3 linked regions of the Homo sapiens genome follow. The protein of the gene in region 1 interacts with the protein of each later gene in a pairwise test. Each region holds a gene or a part of one and is shown on either strand. Other genes may lie near its edges.

Region 1 (5,533 bases):
CCTTACAAATTATAGAACTTGAGAGCCACACTGCATCAGCAAGAAGCTTCCAAACACAAAACTTCTATTAACTGTGACTCTGCCCAGTGTGCAGCCCAGTTTGTCACGCAATTCCCCATGATCAATGGAAATATGCTTTTCTGGGTACTTGGCAAGATAATACTGATCAAGAAAGTGCTGGCCATTTAAGCCGTGCAATTGGGAGGATGGGATGCCCTTTGATTAGATGAGGAAGCCACAGAGCTGAATTTTGTTTGGTCAGATAACAAGTTTAAATTTCAATATACAGAGGTGTCTAGCGGGCTGTCCAGAAAAAAAAAGATCAGGGCTTGAGATGAGGGTCTGGGTAAGTAGTGTGGAGGCTAGTTGAGGCTGTGATGGTGAGGAACATCTAACTCAGGAATACTGAGTTGTCTTTTGTTTCCCTTCTGATAAGAAGTTGTAAGCTCATCCAGAAATACTCATTTTGCTTTCAATAGATGCTATTGATTGATGTCTCATTTAATTCATAAATTTTAATTTTATTTTCAGTAAACAACAATGTTCAACTTTTATGCACCAAAGTAATACAGAGTCACGCAGCAATAAAATCGTGTTTATTTAGTGATATGACAAGTAGAGAAATCAAACATAATATTTTACAAAATGTACAATTTATATTTTTATAAATACTTTAAAAGAGAGAAGCGGAACACGTGTGGTGGCATTAAAAGAATGTCTAGATTTAATTTTGCAGCCTACCTTGTAGCCTGACAAACCAGATACATGTATGTATACACATATATCTTGATCATGAGTTTTCATAATTATGGCCCAAGGATAAGTTTTGGGCATGTCTACAATAATTCCAAACTCTCATAAAATGTGTGGTCTCTCACCACCAGTCATGTTGATTTTGCTCTATTTTTCTCAAAATTCCACAAAATGCACATTTGAAACAGCTATCAGAGGATGTAAGCAAGTGCTTTGGGCCTCAGTTTACTCATCAGTTAGATGAGAGAATCCCTGCTAATATGCTGTTTCTGCTTAATTAAAAAACTTGGGGGCCTCAGCAGCTTCCAATATATAAATGTCTGAGGGCTATGAGGGACCAGTCATCTTTGTATTGGGAGTTTTCTGTTTAGTTTCTTTCTATTGGAAAGGAGTCAATGTGTCTTAAATGGAGAAAGTTTATGACACCAGTCCACTTAGTAAACATTTCATTACTGTAGATACAACACGTTTCCTAGTGTAAAACTAAACAGAAAAGTAATAGTCATCTCTGGATGTCATGTTGAAGAGCTGCATGTTTCCTTGGATTTGGAGCTTGGAAGTTCAGAGCTGGTTTACCCAAAAAGGGAGCCAATAGAGAATCTTCCCAATGAACCTCAATATATGGTTGTAATACTTGTACAATGAAATGTTAAGTATGATTCTAGACTTCACTGACTCATTACAGTGATATTTTCTTGGAATTGCACTAGTGCACAACAAAATATGATGAGTGCAATGTGAAACAGTCTACAAAGTAAATTATATACTTGTTTTCTTAAATTTATAGAAATTTGCATTTGTAATAAAACCACAGGAAAGTAAGTCATTCCTAAGCCATATCCTGAGCTTACCTTGATTCCAAGTTTACAGTTAATTACATTTTTTGTTAAATAAAAGACAGATATAAAGGTCCTCATATGATCACATTAGGAAAATACATAGGATTCAAGGATGAAATCGTGATTCTTCATTACTTTTCTTATATTCCTTTGATGGTGGGTGGCGCAGCAGCTACAGGTGCTCTGTAGGTGTGCTTCTTGAGTGACAGGTTACATTTTCCCTCTGGTAGTCTTCAGCTCCAGCTCCTGGAGGAAGGCCTCATTGTTCTTAGGACAGTTGGTGTGACAGGTGCAGGTCCCAATGACCATCACTGGCTTCTTGACTATTTGCCCTGGGGAGCACTGAAACTCTGCCTGGATGGTTTTGGTATTGTGGGGAGTGCAGCAGCGGCCATCACTGCAGACCCCACAGAACCTGGGCTTGTAGGTGTGCAGGCTGGTGCAGTTCTTGAACTGCAGGTGGATGGCTTTGAGTGACTTCTTGGTGCGGAGACACTTTTTTCCTTTCTAAGAAAGAAAAAAGAAGTGATGTATTGAATGGCTACCATTCCCCTGAGGGACAATTTTAGAGTATGGAATTACCTGCTAGTTGCCCACCCAATATCTATTGGTCTTTCTTCTTTGCTATCAGAACATTAATTTTGCTTGAGCAATGTAGTCAGCTAAAAGTATTTGCTTCCACAGACTATGTGGGACTTGGGATAACCTTGTGGCAAAGTTCTGGCCAAGAGAATCTGGGAAATTCTTTGCCCTTTGAGTAGGTACAATTCTTTATTGTTCCTGTATTCATTTTCCTTTCTTCCTGGAATGTAAACACCTTGCCTAATTGTACATAATGGTCTTTTGACATTGAGGAGATGAGCATGCAGGTGAAAGCATAACAAAACCTATCTTTTAAGACACTGTAACATGCTTTGGTGTCATTTTTAGCCAAATGGATTTTTACACGTGATACAGTTTGGTTCTCTGTGTTCATACCCAAATCTCTTCTCATATTGTAATCACCACGTGTCAGAGGAGGGGCCTGGTGGGAGGTAATTAGATCATGGGGGCAGATTTTTCCCTTGCTGTTCTCGTGATAGTGAGTTCTCACAAGATCTGATGGTTTAAAAGTGTGGCACTTCCCCTCTCACTGTCTCTCTCTCTCTCTTTCTGCCTTTCTCTCTCTCTTTCTCTCTCTCTCTCTGTCTCTCTCTGTCCTGCTGCCATGTAAGATGTGTTTTGTTTCCCCTTCACCTACTGCCATGATTGTAAGTTTCCTGAAGTTTCCCCAGCCATGTGTAACTGTAAGGCAATTACACATCTTTTCTTTATAAATTACTCAGTCTTGGGTAGTTCTTCATAGCAGTTTGAAAATGGACTAATACAACATGTTATAAAAAGAATGTTTATAAATCTGGCATTATTTTATGTTTCAAATACTCTTCAAACATTAACTCAACCTTATTAACAGTGTTCATTCATACAAGAAATAATCATTCATAGAAAGAACAATTGCCCAAGTTTTACAGATGAAGAAACTGAGTCTCAAAGACCTAAAGGGATCAGAAAACATCTAATATTTGAATTTGTCTGTACAAAGCCCATTCTTTCTATTACGTGATGAACCCAGGAAATTCCAAGACATGGAATTTGCATGGAGGCAAATAAAGTGGAGAATGTTTTCAAGATTGTATTAGTAATGATAAATGAAGAGGCCCAATGTTGATAATTCAGCAAAGAATTGGCTATATTTTATTTCTTACTTATATTTCTTAATCTACTAATTTCCTACAGTTATCCACTGTTCACCTTCATAGGCATGACCCACAGCTTGTGGGGTGATTAGACTTGGAATTATCTTAAATCAGTGGCTCTCAAACTTCAGTGCACATCAAAATCATCTAGAGGATTTCTTAAAACAAGCTGTCAGACCTCACACCCTGAGTTTTGGATTCAGTACATCCGATGTGGGACCCACACCACAAATTTACATTTTAACAACTTCTTAGATGATGCTGCTGGTTTGGGGACCACCCTTTAAGAACCACTGTCGGCCGGGCGCGGTGGCTCAGGCCGGTAATCCCAGCACTTTGGGAGGCCGAGGCGGGCAGATCACAAGGTCAGGAGATCAAGATCATCCTGGCTAACATGGTGAAACCCCGTCTCTACTAAAAAATACAAAAAAATGGTGGAGGGCGTCTGTAATCCCAGCTACTGAGGAGGCTGAGGCAGGAGAATAGCGTGAACCCGGGAGGCGGAGCTTGCGGTGAGCCAAGATTGTGCCACTGCACTCCAGCTTGGGTGACAGAGCAAGACTCCGTCTCAAAAAAAAAAAAAAAAAAAAAAAAAGAACCACTGTCTTAGATTTAAGAATCTCTTGGAGACAAGGAAGTAATGATTGTTATACTAGTACAATTTTTATAAAATATGTATACTATAAATAACCATCTTTAAAATAACATATCCAAATATTAAAGAAGATTCAAGTTACAAGAAAAAATACAAATTTTGCAAAATGACACAATAGAAAAAGCCACATCTTAGAGGCATTAAATGGAAACATCTTGTTTAATAAAGAAGTTGCTGTGCTATTGAAAATATTTAAGGACTTCTTCTTACTTTTTCAATTTAATATTTAGCGTGTATTCTTGTCAACACCCACAAAATGGTACAGGATAACAACATTCCTATGTGTGTGTATGTGTTTGTATGTGAGACTGCTTATGTGGGTGAACCTATATGACTATGTTAGATATATGTTTGAATTCCTCTGAGCGTGGGGAAGTGCATCTCCTAGGATATAATTTTAGGGATAAGGTGTTTCTAGGTGTTCTTTCTAAACTGGTGGAAGAAAAGTAAAGTTAGGATGGACTTCCAAAAATTATATAGCTAAGCAGCCATATAACTAATGCAACCACTAGGGACTCTTATTTTACCAGTAAATAGAAATCATAAGTAATGGTGGCTACTGTTAACAGAGTACTTAATCTATACCCAGCATTTTGCAAATTCATTCTATGTAATCATCGTGACAAGTTAAGGTAGGTACTTTCAGCCGCCCCATTATGTGGGAGAAGGAATTGAGGCTGAGAGGTTAAGAAAATTGCCCAAGATTACATAGCTGGTTCATGTGGAAAGACAGAATTTGAAGCCAAGCTGTCTGGCTCCACAGTTGTCCTCTTACGCATTAGATGATATTGCTTCAGTGTCAAGATATGTAAATCTTGAATTGCTAAGGGCTGTTTTATTTTAGTCTTAGGTTTGTATAAGGATCCATATAATGGTTCAAATTGGGTATTGCATTTTTCTGATATAGGGCTCTGGTAACAAGGCCTGTGATGTCATCAGCAACCAATCAGAGCTTCTGAACTGCACGTCTCACATTCAGTGTTAACATACTGAGTTGATGTAATTCCAACAAAAAAAAAATAAAAAGATATGTGCTGTTTTATTTGGCCCATATTGCTTTATGCTGGCAAATGTATTATTTCCACTAGGTTTTTAAAAATACCAACAATAATTCCCAGACAGTCACTCGCTTATTTATCAACAGTTGTTTATCACGCACACAATATCTGCCAGGTAGAAAGCTGAGGACTGAGAGGTAAGACCCACATGGCCTCTACCCATACATACAGAACCTGACGAATAAAGAGAACTGAGGTCAGAAGTGACCTCTTTAGAATCAGCTGTGCTTGACAACTGTAGCCAGTTTTCTCCAGGAATGGAATGGGATTTGCTAGACCATTCTCTATTGGGAAAAGCATTATAGTTTTCCGGTCCCTCTCCCTCTTTACCTGAGGGTGTACTGTGAGTTGCTTAGAGTATTTCAATATGTTAAAGAGAAAAAAGAAGATAGGCTGGCTTCAAGAACCCCACTGCCTTTTCTCTGGGGTTAACTCCCCGCTATAGCTGCTCTCTCCGTCACAGAGTGACACAGTGACTTTCTGAAGCCCAGG
Region 2 (7,044 bases), on another chromosome or scaffold:
GATCGCACCACTGCACTACAGCCTGGATGACAGAGCGAGATGCCTTCTCAAAAAAAAAGAAAAAAGAAAAAAAGAAAGAAAATGTAGGCCATTCTACATGGCTTGGAGTCCTTTTTCAAATATAGGCCTTTATTTGGTGACAATTTTATGTGACCTGGACTGCCTTGCCTTTTTTAATTGACATGGACTGTTTGATGAGCTATAGTAGGTGAATTCCTTCCTTCTTTCCATAAAGAAATATTTGACTGAAACAATAATTTGTACTCCTAGGTAAATGTGAATGACTGATTGGTTTTATAGTTAACCTTTCATAAGAATATTTCTCCAATCCCCCAACCTGTAGAAGCCAACTCCTATAGGTTAATTCACTCCTACAGTAAATTTCTCTTTATGTTTCTCACAATCTGAGTTGACTTCTACATTCTTGAAAAAAAAATTTAATGTTATTGGTAAAGACTGAAAAGTAAGCAAACAGGTAAAGAAAAAAAAGGAAAAGGGGGAGGGAGAGCAGACAGAACTAGCAACCCGCAATAACATGAAAAGACTCAATTCTTAGCGGTGTGCTGTGTCATACCAGGGTCAAATAAGAGATGCTCATTAAATCCTCACATTCCTTCAGCCACCCAAAGAGTCATTATCTCCTCCCTTGGGAAAAGGGTTTTGAGTCACACTCGAACAAAAGTATGAGAACTTTCAGGAAGCCAAGAGAATCATGTTCTCTGTAAGCATTCTGGTAGGAAAATCCCAGTTAAAAATCTTAGATTTTTTCATCATGAGAAACACAATTAATCAAACCTAAAGGGTAGCGGGATTTGTCTGGGTAAATCCAAAATGCAGAAAATGCATATTTTTTTCCTGGATAAATTTCTATCTATGTAGGCAAAATAAAAAGTAGAGGAGGGTAGGTGGAATACTGCTATTGAGAAGGAAAAAAAGGGTGCTTTGGGCCTCACTAATTCAGGTTGACTGTCCAAATCAATTCCCCTCACAAATAATTGCTCAACTCTGCATTTCATTTTGTCTGGGAAGACACAGCCATGGAGAACAACTTAAGTGGGTCACTTTTTCTTGGATCCTTTAAGAAAATCCTTTCAATTGGAAAATGTCAAAATCTATTTTGCACATATGTAGCAATATCCATAGTAGTTCAATATAAATTTACAACCGAACAAAAGCATCTCATTTTTCTTGTTTTGCCATATCCACTTTCCTTTATACATAAATACACTTTATACAGAAAATGTCCTTTGGGTAGAATGAAGTATGCCAATTGAAAATGTTATATGTTGTTCAAGGAATTATTCCCAATTTAATACCTTTCAGTTAATTTATTCGTATCTATGTGTCCTATGGATTCAGTGTCCCAAAGATAATTCTAGTGTACATTGACCACTCCAACTTTGCAAGTTAGAGGCTGAGAGAAAACAGAGGCTCTTGCTGTAGATAATATAATGTGCTGAAATTCCAGAGATGCACATAATTTCTACCAAAACAGTATACTAAGCACTTTTTCAAATGCACTCTTACTTACTGGGTGCTCCCGTTGCTTCTGCACAGCTCCAGGGCCTGTTGGTACCCATGGATCTTGCAGGTGGAAAACCAAGCCGCAGTTACAGGGTGGGCAATACATCTGAGGAGAACAAAACTGTGGGGTCACTACCAGTGGGAGAGACTGAGGAGTTGCAGTGACATTGCTTTATACAAAAGGTTTGGTTTCAATCTTAAGGTTCCACTTAATCTGGCATAATTATAACTCAAAATAGTAAACATGTCAATAGACTCAGGACCAATACAAACGAGGCTCACAGGTCAAGTTTTACCTAAGGTGAAACTATAATCATTTCCCCATTTTGAAGAAATTAGACACACTTGAAAAGTATATAGAGTTAACTTTATGTTTTTGAGTTATCTTTATTGAGGGCCCTCAATGAAGAAAATCTATTCATTGAGTCATAAAATAGGTTTTCTTAAATTGTAGCCAGGGAAAACTAAAATCCAGAAAGGAAATTAGGAATTAGGACAAATAATATTCATTATTTAAGGCTATTAGAGAACCCATGGGATAGAATGCTTCAGTGCTCAAGAAGGCATGTTATTTTTTCAAAAGAGGCAGTATTTGATTTAGTTTTCTACTGTTAATTGTGTCAGCAACTGCATGAAATACCAATGAAATCTATTTCCAGGTGCTTGTGGGTCTAAGGAGCACTAAGACTTGTGCTACTGGTAACATGCTCTATAAAGCATATGCTTTCTATGAGTGTTAGGGTTGAAAGGCCTTGGTGGTGCCTAAGCACTGTCTATCCGTTGATGGTGTAGTCAGTAATGAAAAGCATGGGTTGTTGTAGGTCACCTGTAGCAGAGCTTGAACATGTCTTTAATTGGGACAATGAGAAATGCTGTACATGGGAATAAATGTATGCGTGAAAATTAGATCAACATACCTGTTTTAATTGCTTTTCTAGTTTTTCTTTCTCCATCTGACAAGCTTTTATCTAAAGACAAAACAAAGGCATTTGTTAATCAAGACAAGTTAAAATCATTAATTCCCAAGCCACTCTTGACCTACTCAAGTGTCAGGCATTGACAGCAGTAATACCAACAAAAATAGCCACAAGTTGGTTTTTGCAGACATGCATTGATTCTTAAAATTTCCAGTTGCAGTTTGAAAAATGTGATAGTTTTAAATTGCTATTCCAGTTTTTTGAGGCCATTACAATTCTGTTTTAGGTAGATCTATTTAGATACAGATATAGAAACAATTTCCATTGCTTACTGAATGACATTGGAATTGTCAACCTGACATTCAAAGGCTTCCACAATAAACGTTAGAAGTTATATATGCACTTAATCCATGTCAGAAACTTATCTAAATTTTTTACATGCAATAACTCACTGAATTCTCCCAATCCCTCTATGTGATACTTAATACTATCTCAATTTTATAGATGAGAACACTAAGACATAAGATTCTGAGTAACTTGTTCAAAGTCACACTGCTATATCCCACAGCTTCTCACTACTTAAGGCCCAGCCTCATCTAGATGAATCACCTACCCTGGGTTCCCTTAACTTAAGACACATTTAGAGAAAGCTGGCTTTTCCTTGACTGTTCATTCACATCATTGTCATTCCTACACTCCATGTCCCACATTCCCATAAGGGATGGTCAAATATCCCCTTCTGAATGATACCTTTCCAAGTCCCACTTATCAGAATTATTCTGTCCTCTTATGTAGTGTTGTATATTTACTGTGTGATTTTTTAGACCAATGTGTACTATTTACAGGCAATTCTTGCTGCTTGTGGTGGTCATATTCCATAAAGTCACCACGGACACTGAATTAGTGAATATTGAACCACTGCTCCTAGGAGAAATGTTGGGTTAAGTTTCTGCTAGCCTCTTGTCACAACATTTGTGTCAATGGATCAATACATAACTTTGTTTCATGTGTGTTTCTGATTAAAGACAACTTATTTAATATGTATTGTTGATTAACTCTGAAGTCATGGTCAAGAGTACTATAACATGTCTTAATGAAGCTTCTCTAACACACTTTTTCTCTATAAGGCACATCACATCCTTCATGCTTAGGAATACTAGAGAGCATGACAGCATATACGTGTGGGCCATTCTAAACCATGAAATCACCAACAAATAGCACAAAAATGCAGGAAACATGGCACTAAATAGATCACAAAAAGAACACTAGGAATGTGTATATGTCAGGAAACAACTTTGCTGCTCTGCTCATATGTAAGGATGTATCACAAAGCACCACAAGTATTGATTTGGGGATGACAAATGCATTTTAGTCAGTAGGGAAATTCACATATGCAGAATTTGTGATGATGAGGATAGACTGTACATGTCTCTTTTACTATATTGTGAGTTATTTACTAGCAAGAACCAGTTTTCGTTTTCTCACAGCATATAGCAGAATGCCTTGCAAAAAGAAAGCATCAAAATTAGATTACAAAGAACTGAAAGTACCATGCTAATTATAAACTAAATGAAACTATTAAACATGCCCCCTCTTCTAATAGACTAAAATAATTTATAAAATACCTCTGAGCCATGACTTGACTTGAGCTAAATGTTTTCTAAAGCGTTTTTTTGTTTTTTTCTTTTCTTTTTGAGACAGAATCCCACTCTGTTGCCCAGACTGGAATGCAGTGGCCCAATCTCGGCTCACTGCAACCTCTGCCTCCTGGGTTCAAGTGATTCTCCTGCCTCAGCCTCCAAAATAGCTGTGATTACAGGCGCGTGCCACCATGCCCAGCTAATTTTTGTGCTTTTAGTAGAGACAGGGTTTCGCCATTTTGGCCAGGCTGGTCTCAAACTCCTGATCTCAGGTGATCTGCCCGCCTTGGCCTCCCAAAGTGCTGGGATTACAGGCATGAGTCACCGCACCCGGCCTGTTTTTGCTTTTTTCACTTAATATTGAGAACAACTTAGGAAGTCACAAGGTAGGTTTCATTATCTATATTTTACAGGCAGGTATACTAAAAGAGGTTAAGGAACTTATTTTTTAGAGAGAGATTTTAGAGTAATAAGAAGCATTTTAGAGATCATCTAGTTCAACTTTGTCATTGTACAGATGAAGAAAAGGAAGCATAGAAAAGTTAAATAACTTGTTCAAGGTTACCACCAATGGAATATTAGAGCAGGCAGGAACACCAAGTCTTTTCCCCCTAAATTCTCATATTTCTAAGTACCCTAAGCATCTTTCACTTTACCACATTACTTATTTTCACTGACTTAACGCATCCTCAGTGATAGAATGAATACATTCTGGTAAGAAAGCAACTCAGAATGCCAGAATGATTTGACCTAAATATTCCTCTAAAAGTCCACTTGGACAACAAATAATATGTTATTCAACTAAGGTAATGTCAGTTCTTTTTAAAATATCATAGCATTTAATCTGCTGTTAACACATTTAACACAGATCATCAAACCATCTATTACATCTCTGTGAATTCTATCATTCTCCTATTGAGTAAATGAGACTTTAAAAAAATGATTGAGCTTTCATTATTTTAAAGAAAAAATTTCATAGCTTTAATCTATCACTTTAGATATCATTAAGATTGTCCTTTAGGTTCAAGGCAGAATTATACCATACTGCATTTAGAAAATACATTTATTTTGTTGATACCAATCAACTTTACAGGTGACACAGTTAAGGACTTGTGGATTATAGTATACAACGTTAAGTAGATAGATATACATTCCTGACAAGACTAAAAGTTCTGTAATGGCAAGGACATTGCCAGTCTATCACCAATCTTAATATAGTAGAATAAATAAAATTATTTAATTAAATATAATTATATATTGATATATAATTTATCATATAAAAATAAATTATTAAAAATTGTTTTAAAATTAAAGTTGTTTTACTTGCTGTTTTACTGGCAGCAAATTTTAAAATTGCTTTAAAAAACAAATATTTTTTGTTCTAAAACTGTTTTACTGGCAGCAAGTAAAACAGTTTGTGCAGAGACAACTTAAAAGAAATTAGAGTAGTTGGGCATGTAAGAAACACATTAAAAGAATAAAAATACAAAAAAATTAGCTACTTGGGAGGCTGAGGCAGGAGACTAGCTTGAACCTGGGAGGTGGAGGTTGCGGTGAGCCGAGATCATGCCATTGCACTCCAGCCTGGGCAACAAGAGCAAAACACCATCTCATAAAAAAAAAAAGAGAGAGAGAGAATATACAATATATACTCTTTTTTTTTACCAAGAGTAATCAGAACATTGTCTTACCTATTATTGTATGAATTATTTATTAGGTTGCCTGAATTACTTTCATAAAATTATTTGATTTTTTACTACTATTTTATTTTTTCTAATTTCTTACAGAGAAAATGGTTCTGCAAAACAATTTTTTCCATGTAAAATTAAGAATTTCAAGTTAATCTTAAAAAAATCAGAGATAAAATTAAATTTAATTCACAATCCACTTTGTATTTGGAAGAAAATGATGACTGTTTTAAATTTTTTTATGACGAAGAATCTTGAAGCTAAGTGCTGCCACAGCATTCTCATAACAATGTTCTATTTATTTAAATGTATTGCAATATTTTACAAATAAAAATGGTGCAGTTTGTTTTATTTTTTAAGGCAAAATTATGTTAGCTACATTTTCCTTCATTAACATCACTATTTACCCATCGTGGCAACTTCCTGAGTCTACTTTAATATGTTCAATTACACTTAATTTTAGTATGCTTACATTTAATATATTCTATTTTAATAAACTGGTGACCATTATCTGGCTTCCTTCAAAGTACTCCAGTTACATTACATCTGGGAACCACTGAACAAAATCCTCAGTCTCACATATAAATGGCATTTAGAAATACGTATGTTTTTGGCAGACAGGAGCATTCCAACATAGCCCTTCAAAGAAAATGACAAGAATTTTAAAAACCACTTCACTTTATTTGAGTACTAGGTAGTTCAACTCTCATTCTACCAAGATAAATATTATGAGAAAAAGATCAAAAGGACTGTATTTTATTAAAAAAAACTTTGGAATGCAATTTCTTGGGCAATTCCTTAATATACTTAAGTTAAAAGAAATTTCCAGTCATTTTCATCTCTTTACAAGATTGTTTAAGAATGACTTCATCCCAGGTGCTGACCTTTAAAAAAAAATTCAATGTCAATTAACAGAAGTCCAAACGTCTTGAATTTTTTTAAATGAAAAAAATATACATACATGCTGGCAAAGATTATTTTGTTTTGACTTGTACCTGGGAATTCAGCCTGTTCAACTGGGATTGGGAAGTTTCATTAATTTGCTGTAGCTCCTCTTTCTCTTGATTAAGTCTCTCTCGATCCGATCGTTCCTTTTTGAAGTCTTCTTCGTATATTTGCACCTAAGAAATATTAGCTTGCTGTTACTGTAAGCTTCCTTTTCACTTAAGCCATTTAAATGACTTTATTTTAAATGACTGCTGCCTACTCCATTATTGTAAAGAACCCTCCCAACTAGTGTTCAGTGTCACTGTTTTGGAGCAAGTCATCCATCCC
Region 3 (3,857 bases), on another chromosome or scaffold:
CAAGTCACTCAACTTCTCTATGCCTCAGTTTCCTCATCTATAAAATGGATAATAATAATTCCCCCATCATGGGGTTGTCGTAAGAAAGAAATGAGTTAGTATACATAAGCATTTAGCATGCCTGGCATATATGAAGCCCTATGTGTTAGTTTTTGTCATTATAAGTGACAGAAAGGGAAGTGGAGGGTGTGTTAAGAATCTAGGAGTTAGACCGGGCGCGGTGGCTCACACCTGTAATCCCAGCACTTTGGGAGGCCGAGTTGGGCAGATCACCTGAGGTTGGGAGTTCGAGACCAGCCTGACCAACATGGAGAAACCCCGTCTCTACTAAAAATACAAAATTAGCCAGGCGTGGTGGCACATGCTTGTAATCCCAGCTACTCAGGAGGCTGAGGCGGGAGAATCGCTTGAACCCGGGAGGCAGAGGTTGCAGTGAGCCGAGATCTCGCCACTGCACTTCAGCCTGGGCAACAAGAGCAAAACTCCATCTCAAAAAAAAAAAAAAAGAATTTAGGAGTTGTAGGAAGCTAATTTAGACAGGAGGCTCAGGGAAAGTTTTGCTGAGGAAGTAGAAACAGAATCCTCAAGATTTAGCTAGCTTCACAAAGAAAGCAGGAGATACACAGGACAGGAAGTGGCCCGAGGTAGGCAGGAGCTGACTGGATCAAGAAACTGAAGCGTAGTGAGGGCAAGTGTGCTGGAAGGCTAAATAGGGTGATGTTGCTAAAGCAAGGGCAAGTGATGTGGGTCACACTAGCGTTCCTCCCAGTACAGCAGCCACAGAGCTTCCTCTGTTTTGTCAGAGAACCTGGTGGCAGAAGCGTATTACTGTGACTGAGTCTGAGGCCTTGGTTATGCTGTATTCCTTGGTCTGACACTCAGAGATAGTCTGTCCTCTCAAAAAAATTCCAGCTCAAGAGGTGGAGCCAGAGTTCAAAATCGCCAGCCCTCTTACGCTGTCATAGCTGACTGCCATGTTCAAAACGTGGTTCCTGGAAACTGACTTCTTTACATCAACCACACCTATATGAACAGAATCCCTTCTTAGCTCTAAGCCAAGAATCAGTAAACTGTGGCCCATGGGCCAAATCTGGCCTGCCACCTATGCCTGTACTGCCTGCCGATGAAGAATGGTTTTTACATTTTTCCATGGCTGGGAAGAAAAGATGACAAAGATAGTAAGTACACTGTATATGGCCCACGACACCTAAAATATTTACTGTGTCCCATTACAGGACAAGTTTGCCTGCTCTTATAAATCACTGAACCTGGAGCTGTTCACACTGAACCGAATCTACTTAGGGATTGGCCCCTGGGGACATTGTGTTGGGTGAGGCCTCCCTTTTCACTAATGGTGGGTCTTTGATCTTACAGGACAAATCCTTCAGAAAGATCAGGAAATCAAGGACCTAAAACAGAAGATAGCCGAAGTCATGGCCGTCATGCCCAGCATAACATACAGTGCCGCCACCAGCCCCCTGAGCCCTGTTTCCCCCCACTACTCTTCCAAATTTGTGGAGACCAGCCCCTCTGGACTTGACCCCAATGCCTCTGTTTACCAGCCCCTGAAGAAATGAAGGCCAGCTGTGTGTTGTGCCCAAAAATTTGGTTACCGGAAGGCATTGCAAAGGAGCGTCTCTGGCAGTCAAGATAAAAAAACAGTTTCTATTGTATTTTGTGGAACTGTATCTGTTGTCATTTTTAAAAAGGGGGGAAAAGATAACATCCAAGTCTGATTAGAACTGCCCATCAGTTTTTCTTGTAAATTTTTAGAAGACCTCACAGAACTTTACAGTTTATTTTTCTCGGCCAACACATTAAAACCATTCTTGGATTTCAAGTAGCCAACTTTGCCTTTTATGTATTCTTACATAGTTTCCTCTTGAAGAAAAAAAAAGCAGAGTTTTTGTTTTTCAACCCTTTATGTTTGTTTTGTTTTATTCTTAAATAAGCAAGCAAAACCTGCACATTGGATTCACGTGAGATGATAATGAAAACTTTTAGTTTAAGAGTGAAGGGTTAAGTAACCTAACAGAGCTTTGATGTTATAGCTGCATTAAAGAAGGTGATTGTCAATATTACAGAAAACAAAAATGGATTGCCCCTCCAAGGACCAAACAGATTCAAGGAGCATCATTTAAGCTAAGAAGAGACCTAAGTGATGAAACTAGCTGTAAGAATGTAACAGGGGTTGTGTTTGAAATATTTATATTCCCATCGGTGTGTTTAGTCCTAGAAAATTGCTAGCAGCAGTCTTCTTCACAGTGCCTTGGGAAAAGACATTTCAAGAGGAAACTTGATAATTTTAAACTCTTTTCCCCCTTTACCGTCATCTATCCTCTATCTGTATCAAGCTCACTGCGGATCCTGCTGTAAAACTGGTGGGTAGCTGGGCTGTCCGTTACCACCACAGCTACATCTTCTGTTTCTTTGAATAGAAAGCACCACAGTGTTTTGCACTTGCCTCCAGTAAAGTGCCCTGGGAAGGGAGCTGGGCAGTGTTTGTGGACGAGAGACTGTAACGATGGCTAATAAAAGCTGCGGGTCTAGGTTTTTTTTTTTTTGTTTTGTTTTTTCATTTCATTTAACTGTGCTTTCTCCACTTTTCATCATTTTGTGTTTGATGATTTAAAAGAAGCTTGACTATTCCTCAGCTCTTGTGCCAAGGAGGGTTTTTTTTTTTTAAGACTCTTAAACTCAAAACTCTGCACAAAGATTTCAGTTTCAAATGTGTATTATACATGGGTAGAAAAGTGTTTGCACAGGCAACTTTTGGAAGTGTTTAAGAATCAGGGTGGGGGTGGCGGGAGGGACCGGGTGGGGGCAATGCAAAATTGTATTTGGAAACTAGGAAAAATTAAGAAACCAAATAAATTGGTTTTGCTTCCTTGCCATGGATTCTGGAAGGACATAGTTCTTCTAAAATTTCCTGTTAATTGGCATGTACGTCTCATTTAAAGCAAATTAAGTAGGACAAGCAAGTCAGTAAAATAGAAGTATTAAAAAGAATCATCCTTTAAATCACAGATCTTATTTTGAGATTAAAAAAAATACTTCTAGCTTTAGCCAGGTGTGCATGTTGCTGCCATTTTGCATTTTTGAATCATCTTGTGTAATTGTCACCATGAAAGTGTTACTCAGAATTGTCATAGATTTTCTCTTCTTTGTGCAAAAACATGGAAAATTGTCACTGACTTTGTTTTGAGGTTTCCCCCATTTTGCTGCCTTTTGGGACACTTCGTTAAATACTGGTCTTGGCTGCATTCTTTTTTTTTTTTCCTGTGGGGTTCAAAAGAATAAACATTTTCTTACAGATAAAACTAGTTTTCTGCCTTTTTAACTTTCAGGAGAGCACAGCAAGGTAGATTGTTCTGAGTGGGGCTTAGCCGGTTGCTATCTTGTTCTCATCTCGGCCTGCATCAGGTGGGGGTCCCCCCACACAGCCGATCCCTGGGTAGGGGGCAGACCCAGGATTTGGGGGAGACCCATCAGGATCTCAAGTTGGTTTGGTTTCTGTGCATAAGACATGTCCATTCTCATTTGTTTTCTCCCTTCTCTGGCATCTGATTAGAGCCAAGGCTGACTTGTTTTCTGGTACAACCCTCCTTTCCTAAGAAAGCAAGTTAGGGGTGGAGTTGGGGGGTAGTTGGTGAGAAAATCTTGAGAGCAAATTTCCTTCATCAATGCCTTGCCTTCTATTTTCTAGAATCTTGCTTGGCCACTTAGTGACCAATACTCTATTGGGTTTCCTATCTGCTATAGATCCTGAACTAACCTACACTTTTATCATCCTCCCTTGTTTTTAGAGGCTTTGTCTGTTTTCATCTTCTGAGAAGCCAACTGCCTCCCTTGGCCAT

Evidence for each region. Proteins that work in one complex are often made in the same cells at the same time.
Region 2: the proteins of CCN3 (region 1) and TNIP3 interact in binary tests that used the Homo sapiens proteins (3 or more experiments, as listed by UniProt).
Region 3: the proteins of CCN3 (region 1) and MACO1 interact in binary tests that used the Homo sapiens proteins (3 or more experiments, as listed by UniProt).

What each region holds. Positions count from the first base shown.
Region 1 is NC_000008.11:119,419,402-119,424,934, reverse strand, and holds the end of CCN3 (CCN family member 3 precursor), read right to left. Parts: intron 2,100-5,533; coding exon 1,803-2,099; 3' UTR 501-1,802; downstream 1-500. UniProt on the Homo sapiens protein: Immediate-early protein playing a role in various cellular processes including proliferation, adhesion, migration, differentiation and survival. Acts by binding to integrins or membrane receptors such as NOTCH1.
Region 2 is NC_000004.12:121,140,285-121,147,328, forward strand, and holds part of TNIP3 (TNFAIP3-interacting protein 3), read right to left. Parts: intron 6,891-7,044; coding exon 6,765-6,890; intron 2,493-6,764; coding exon 2,442-2,492; intron 1,631-2,441; coding exon 1,532-1,630; intron 1-1,531. UniProt on the Homo sapiens protein: Binds to zinc finger protein TNFAIP3 and inhibits NF-kappa-B activation induced by tumor necrosis factor, Toll-like receptor 4 (TLR4), interleukin-1 and 12-O-tetradecanoylphorbol-13-acetate.
Region 3 is NC_000001.11:25,496,890-25,500,746, forward strand, and holds the end of MACO1 (macoilin), read left to right. Parts: intron 1-1,374; coding exon 1,375-1,577; 3' UTR 1,578-3,320; downstream 3,321-3,857. UniProt on the Homo sapiens protein: Plays a role in the regulation of neuronal activity.